2 linked regions of the Homo sapiens genome follow. The protein of the gene in region 1 purifies or fractionates together with the protein of each later gene. This does not show direct contact. Each region holds a gene or a part of one and is shown on either strand. Other genes may lie near its edges.

Evidence for each region.
Region 2: the proteins of SH3BGR (region 1) and TRNAU1AP fractionate together in Homo sapiens (co-fractionation; one large-scale study listed by BioGRID). This does not show direct contact.

The regions. Positions count from the first base shown.
Region 1 is NC_000021.9:39,500,466-39,504,281, forward strand, and holds part of SH3BGR (SH3 domain-binding glutamic acid-rich protein), read left to right. Parts: intron 1-3,816.
Region 2 is NC_000001.11:28,573,553-28,577,368, forward strand, and holds part of TRNAU1AP (tRNA selenocysteine 1-associated protein 1), read left to right. Parts: intron 1-3,816. UniProt on the Homo sapiens protein: Involved in the early steps of selenocysteine biosynthesis and tRNA(Sec) charging to the later steps resulting in the cotranslational incorporation of selenocysteine into selenoproteins. Stabilizes the SECISBP2, EEFSEC and tRNA(Sec) complex.

The sequences.
Region 1 (3,816 bases):
AGCAGGGTAAGGAGTGGGCAATGTTGGGGGACACTGTGGTTCTGTGAGTGCCAAGCTGACATAATAGGGGATGGGATGGGCCACTTCTTCAAGGAGTTCTGAAAATGTGCTGGGAAACCAGGCGCCAAGGAAGGAGCCTGGTGGGGCTGGGAATGGGGTGCAGGCATTGTTCTGGGCCTCCTTAGAGGAGAATGTTAGAGGGCTTCTCCACTGGGTCAGTTGTAGCAAAGACTATTTTTCAAACCCTGATGGTTTGCTAATTTATTTATTCTGGGAGAGGTGTGGGAGCTTTTATGAGAGCTGGATCCTCATTCACCAGATAGAATGTGGCTAGAAAGGGGCTGAGACCCACACCCACGCTATGGAAAAAGGGGTGTGGGGCTGGGCATCCATTTGTCTTTACCTCAAAGAACTTAAATTGGGAGGGGCTAGGGAAGGAAATTCCCTGATATTTAGACTTATATTTGAAGTAGACTGCTATTTCAAAATGTTGATATTACAACTCTGAAGTTTTTGTTTTAAAGAAAGACAAAATCTTCAATCTTGACCTAGAAGTTAGACGGTGTTTCATGGCAGCCTGTATAATTCAGAAACAATACTTTAAAAATTAAATATAGTGACCATTTCATTATCTTGTAATTAAAACATAATCTGTTTCACAATTTGAACTTTGCATGAGTTGCCTAATGCACCCTTACAGTCATATTGATGAATACTTTGAAGTTGAGTTTGCTTCTTTTAAGACATAGAGACAAAGATGAAAAGCATTACACCCCAGCCCCTTTCTCCCGTGAGACCAGCAGGAAGGTAGCATATTTATAATCAGATCCTGCCTCCTATAGCCAGGGTGGGCTTTGCTTCAGCTTCTCAGCCACTGGGCTGGGTTAGTTCTGTGAAGTGATGAATCACCCAGCTTGGACGTTCTCTTTGCTACTACATTTTAAAATTGTGAGCCTTTGACAAAGTCAATTATAATCTTGTGAATCCTGGTAGGAATTAAAAAAACCATTTTTTGTTATTTTTGTGTGGGCTATGGTGAAGAAATGACCGTAAGTGAAAAATATTTTTATTTTATATGAATATATTACTAACATCATATTATCAAATTTACTTTTCAACTCTTTAATGCCATTTATCCTACAGAAAGACAGATTCTGACTTCTTCCTGTTTGAAAACCAACACATGCTCTTTGATTTACTTTAATTCAATTAAATTAGAAAAACCCTCTGTGATTGTCAGTAAACAGATGAAAAATGTTGTAAAAACATGATTAACCCTTATGAGTGTATATGAAAATAGGCTGAATTTTAAAATTTAAGAAGGAGACAAACACCACTTAGATATTTAGAATGCTTGCATTTTGTGCTTCAAGAACCTACTGGCTTGTTTTGACGGTCTCTGGTTTGTTGTTAAAAGCTGAGATGGGGCCGGGCGCATGGCTCACGCCTATAATCCCTGTACTTTGGAAGGCAGAGGTGGGCAGATCACTTGAGGTCAAGAGTTTGAGATCAGTCTGGCCAACATGGTAAAACCCCGTCTCTACTAAAAATACAAAAATTAGCTGGCTGTGATGGCGCACGCCTGTAATCCCAGCTATTTGGGAAGCTGAGGTGGGAGGATCGCTTGAACCCGGGAGGCAGAGTTTGCAGTGAGCTGAGATCGTGCCACTGCACTCCAGTCTGGGCAATAGAGTAAGACCATCTCAAAAAAAAATTGCTGAAATGGGAGGACATTGTGGGCTATTTGTAAAGGCATCTCTCCTCCCAGGGCACCCCAGGCATAGACAGGCTGACAGGGAATCAGAAAGACAAGGGAGAGCTCTGTGTGTTTTGAACATTGATTTTGAAAGTATGAGACACATCCTAGTAGTTTCATGTAGGTATGACACCTCAGATAAATCCAAGGCTTTCAAACTCCTGGCTCCGTTGAAACCATCTTGAGGCTATTTCTTTTTGCTCCTCTTGGCTTGCTGTGGTTAAAACAGAGGTGCTCCCCTGGGCTTCCCTCATTAACCAACACGCTGCGGTGGATATAAAGTTTAGAATATTCGTGGGCCCACATTTGGTTCCTAAGACTCCTGGGCAAGGAATGTCAGCTTCCTTTATTGCTTTAAATTCCCTCTATCTGCTCCATGTGCCCACCTCATGGCTGGCAGGAGCTTCCAGCTGGGTGGGGTGTTTTGAAGACCCTGTCCTCCTGAGGGTCTCACAGCCATCCTGGGGTCGTTAGTGGTGACTGGGCAGGGATTGGGTGCTGGTTGTCTGTGGTGGTGTTTCTGCTGTCTGTCCCTTGGCATGGGCCAGACCCTCTGTTCTGGCTGGACACAGACTGGCCTTTCACAGTGGCTGGCCTTCTGACCGCGGACGCTGCTGCCTGTACAGAGTGCCTTGTGTTACTTAAATGCCCCAGCGGTCCCTGGCTCTGTTTCTGTGTATGAGCAGGGCCTGGGCAGTACCCCTCCTGGAAAATCCTTCTTTCCTCCCCAGTCTGGCCACCTCCGTCTTGCCAATTCCAAGCTCTTTTTTTTTTTTTCCTCAGGGACCGCCTAGCTTTATCACCCCATTAGCCTAAGGTTTTGAAAACCAAGGTCTATACTTTCTTCCTTAGGGGTGGAAAGCCAGAACAAATAGGTCGCCTGTGGGAAGAGAAAATAACTCTTACTCTGACCCCTCTACCCCCTCAGCTTTGTGTAGCAGAAAGAACAAGTCACAATTCATATCCTGGCCTTCAGCCACACTTATTATGAGAAGGAATAAAAACAGTTTTAAACATTTTATTCTGAAATAACTATAGACTCACAGGAAGTTTCAAAAATAAGAGTCTTGTGTGCCCTTCACCCAACTTCCCCAAATGGTGACATCTCATCTAGCCTTAATGAAACCAGAAATGCAATGCATTGGTGCATTTCTGTTAACTAGATGACAAACCATATCAAGTTTTTACCTTTTTTTTAAAAAAACCTGCCTTCATTTGTGTGTTAAAAACAATTGTCATGTGTGCAGTAAAAACACAAAACGAGCAAAAAACCTCTCTCCAGCACCTGGCAATGTTCAGTTGAGTGATAAACCAGGTAAATGCCTAAGTCAGGGACAGGCTTATCTGATCTCTGCTATGAAACATGCATACTCAATGCACACTTGTAGGCACTCATACAATTCCATTTAATGGAGAGGAATATTTACCTAATGTTTGACATTGATTAAAAAAATCAACAGAAATGGAAACAAAAACTATTATCTTCTTTAATGATATGGACTTCCCCTGACCACCTCCTCAACTTCCAGGGTTCTTAAAGACAAGATGCCAAGATGTAAATTCTGTCCTTGATAAAGGATTGAGGCAGGAGGACTTGGGAGGTCAGGAGGGTGAACACCGAAAAGACCATGACTTCATGCCTAGGAAGATCTTACCTGTAACTTTAGAAAATAGGGGACCTCATGGGGCCTGGCCTGATAACCCAGGGGAGGGTGAGGGGCTAAGGAACCGGCGCCTCAGGAGTAAAGGAGGAAAACAGAAAGTCAGCTCAGCTTCTGGGCATTCTCTAAGAAATGAACTGCAGACTGGGACATCATGAGAGCTTTAGAAAATGCTGGAAACATTGCACCTTGTGCAGGTTTGGTTTGTGTTTTTTGATCAAGGTACAATTATTTAAAATTGTATGCTTTGTGAACCCAGTCATCCTATCTGAAAGTCATGAGGCCCTTGCTTGACAGATAACATGATTATGGTCTGTAACCACCCCTCTCTGGCTTCCTCCAATAGCAGTCTTGAGAAAAGTTTCAAGGGGCAAACATTGATGTAGGTTTGTGGGAGGA
Region 2 (3,816 bases), on another chromosome or scaffold:
ACCTAAGGTCGGAAGTTCTAGACCAGCCTGGCCAACATGGTGAAATTCTGCCGGTACTAAAAATAAAAAAATTAGCCAGGCGTGGTGTTGCGCGCCTATAATCTCACCTCCTCAGGAGGCTGAGGCAGGAGAATCACTTGAACCCGGGAGGCGGAAGTTGCAGTGAGTCGAGATCATACCACTGTACTCCAGCCTGGGCAACAGTGCAAGACTCTGTCTCAAAAAAAAAAAAAAATTATCCAGGCATGGTGGCCCATGCCTGTAATTCCAGCTCCTTGGGAGGCTGAAGCAGGAGACTCACTTGAACCCGGGAGATGGAGGTTTCGGTGAGCCAAGAATGCTCCATTGCAGTCCATCCTGGGTGACGAGAGTGAAACTCCGTCTCAAAAAAAAAAACAACAGTATTTACTGTCTAGGCACGGTGGCTAAAGCCTGTAAGGTCTTTGGAAGGCCAACGTGGGTTGGAGGATGGCTTGAGCCTAGAACTTTGAGACCAGCCTGGGCAACATAACGAGACCCCATCTCTTTTTTTTTTTTTTTTTTTGGGAGACGGAGTCTTGCTCTGTCACCCAGGCTGGAGTGCAGTGGTGCAGTCTCCAATCTCAGCTCATTGCAACCTCTGCCTCCCAGGTTCAAGTGATTCTCCTGCCTCAGCCTCCTGAGTAGCTGGGATTACAGGCATGCACCACCACGCTCGGCTAATTTTTGTATTTTTAGTAGAGACAGGGTTTCAGCATGTTGGCCAGGCTGGTTTCGAACTCCTTACCTCAAGTAATCCTCCCGCCTCAGCCTCCCAAAGTGCTTTGATTACAGGCATGAGCCACTGTGCCCGGCCAAGTATTTATAATTTTCACTGAATTTCACAGAAGAAAAAGGAAAGAAAAACTGAAAGCCAAGCATGGTGGCCTGTGGTTCCAGCTACTTGGGGGAGGCTGAGGCAGGAGGATTGCTTGGGCCCAGGAGGTTGAGGCTTCAGTGAGCTGTGACTACAGTTGTGCCCCACCATAACTGGCTATTTTTTTCTATTTTTTTGTAGAGGCAGGGTTTCACCATGTTGCCCAGGCTGGTCTTGAACTCCTAGGTTCAAGTGATCTGCCCATCTCGGCCTTCCAAAGTGCTGGCATTATAGGCATGAGCCACTGCTCCTGGCCAAAACTTTTTTTGAGGTACAAAAAGACTCAAAGTTTGAAATCTGTTTTGAGGATTCGTCTTCAAGAGAAAGTCATAGGGAAAATGTTTTCTGTCAAGAAAATGTTCGTTAAAGGAAACAGATCCCTTTTAGGGCATGAACAAACTTGTCTAGTTCATAACATTTTAAAGCACTTTCTTGTGTCCTCTCATGTGATGCCAACTGTAGTGACCTTGTGGGGTGGGCTGGGAAGGACACAGGAGCTCCATTTCACAGATGGGAAACTAGTGGCTCGGAAAGCCCAAGTGATCTGCTGAGGGTCACACAGTGTGGGGCAAAGTCAGGACAGTCCGGTCTTTTTATATTCAAGTCTCTAGTTGTTTCCCCCTGGGAGACATTGCCTTCTTTCTAGAGATAATTAGCCTCATAATATCTGTAGATAAGTCCTTAGAATTTTCCAATCTCTTTTTAATCCTTTTTTTGTTTTCTTTTTCTTGAGAGTCTTGCTCTGTCACCAGGCTGGAGTTCAGTGGCACGATCTCGACCCACTGTAACCTCTGCCTCACAGGTTCAAGCGATTCCCCTGCCTCATCCTCCTGAATAGCTGGGACTACAGATGCGCGCCACCACGCCCAGCTAATTTTTGTATTTTTAGTAAAGATGGGGTTTCACCATGTTGGCCATGATGGTCTCTATCTTTTGACCTCATGATCCGCCCGCCTCTGCCTCCCAATGCTGGGATTACAGGTGTGAACCACTGCGCCAGGCCCAATGTTTTTTTTTGTTTTTTTTTTTTTTGAGACGGTGTCTCACTCTTGTTGCCCAGGCTGGAGTGCAGTGGCGCGATCTCAGCTCACTGCAACCTCCGCCTCCCGGGTTCAAGTGATTCTTCTGCCTCAGCCTCCCGAGTAGCTGGGATTACAGGCATGCGCCATCATGCCCAGCTAATTTTCTTTTTTTCTTTTTTTGAGACGGAGTCTTGCTCTGTCGCCCAGGCTGGAGTGCAGTGGCGCAATCTCGCATGCCCAGCTAATTTTCTATTTCTATTTTTCTAACCCCATAAAGATGGGGTTTCTATGTTGGTCAGGCTGGTCTCAAACTTCTGACCTCAGGTGGTCCGCCCACCTTGGCCTCCCAAAGTGCTGGGATTACAGGCTTGAGCCACTGCGCCTGGCTTTTTTTTTTTTTTTTTTTTTTGAGATAGAGTCTTTGCTCTGTCGCCAGGCTGGAGTGCAGTGGTGCCATCTCTGTTCACTGCAACCTCTGCCTCCCGGGTTCAGGTGATTCTCCTGCCTCAGCCTCCCGAGTAGCTGGGACTACAGGCGTGCACTGCCATACCCGGCTAATTTTTTGTATTTGAGTAGAGACAGGGTTTCACCATGTTGCCCAGGATGGTCTCAATCCCTTGACCTTGTGATCTGCCCACCTCGGCCTCCCAAAGTGCTGGGTTTACAGGCATGAGCCACAGTGCCCAGTTTTTTTTTTTTTTTGAGACAGAGTCTCACTTTGTTGCCCAGACTTGAGATCAGTGATGTGAACATGCCTCACTGCAGCCTCGACCTCCTAGGCTCAAGTGATCCTCCTGCCTCAGCCTCCCTAGTAGCTGGCACTACAGACACAGGTCACCATGCCCAGCTAATTTTTTTTTTTTTTTTGAGATGGCATCTTGCTCTGTTGCCCAGGCTGGAGTGCAATGGCGTGATCTCGGCTCACTGCAACCTCCGCCTCCCGGGTTCAAGCGATTCTCCTGCCTCAGCCTCCCGAGTAGCTGGGACTACAGGTGCCTGCCACCACGCCCAGCTAATTTTTCTATTTTTAGTGGAGACGGGGTTTCACCATGTTGGCCAGGATGGTCTCGATCTCTTGACCTTGTGATCTGCCTGCCTTGGCCTCCCAAAGTGCTGGGATTACAGGCGTGAGCCACCGCGCCCGGCCGAGACGGGGTTTTGCTCTTGTTGCCCAGGCTGGAATGCAGTGGTGCCATCTCGGCTCACCGCAACCTCCACCTCCTGGGTTCAAGCAATTCTCCTGCCTCAGCCTCCCGAGTAGTTGGGATTATAGGCATGTGCCACCATGCCCGGCTCATTTTGTATTTTTAGTAGAGATGGGATTTCTCCATGTTGGTCAGGCTGGTCTTGAACTCCCGACTTCTGGTGATCTGCCCGCCTCGACCTGCTGAAGTGCTGGGATTATGGGCATGAGCCACTGTGCAGAAAAAATTTTTAATAGTATTTTACCACCAGGGACAGGGACTCATGCCTGTAATCTCAGTACTTTGGGAGGCTAAGGCGGGAGGATCACTTTAACCTAAGAGTTCAAGGCTGCTGTGAGCTGTAAGTGTGCCACTGTACTCTAGCCTGTGTGACAGAGCAAGACCCTTTCTCTAAAGTACATACACACACACATACATACATACAGGACTTGGCCTTTCAGCTCCTATATTTGACTGAAGTTCTTCCACTATGCACTTATTGTCAGTTCTTGAGATGATGCTCTGGACTTAATAACTTTGATCAGACCTTCTAAACCCAAATTTGAAGTGAGGACCAGACCAGAAAATCTAGGATACATGATGGCTAGAGACACAGGTGTAGCTTTTAATAGATGCAGGCTAACAGCTGCCATTTTCCCATTCTCTAGATACATTATTCTATTTTCATCTTCCCCAGAACCCTGCAAGGCAGTGC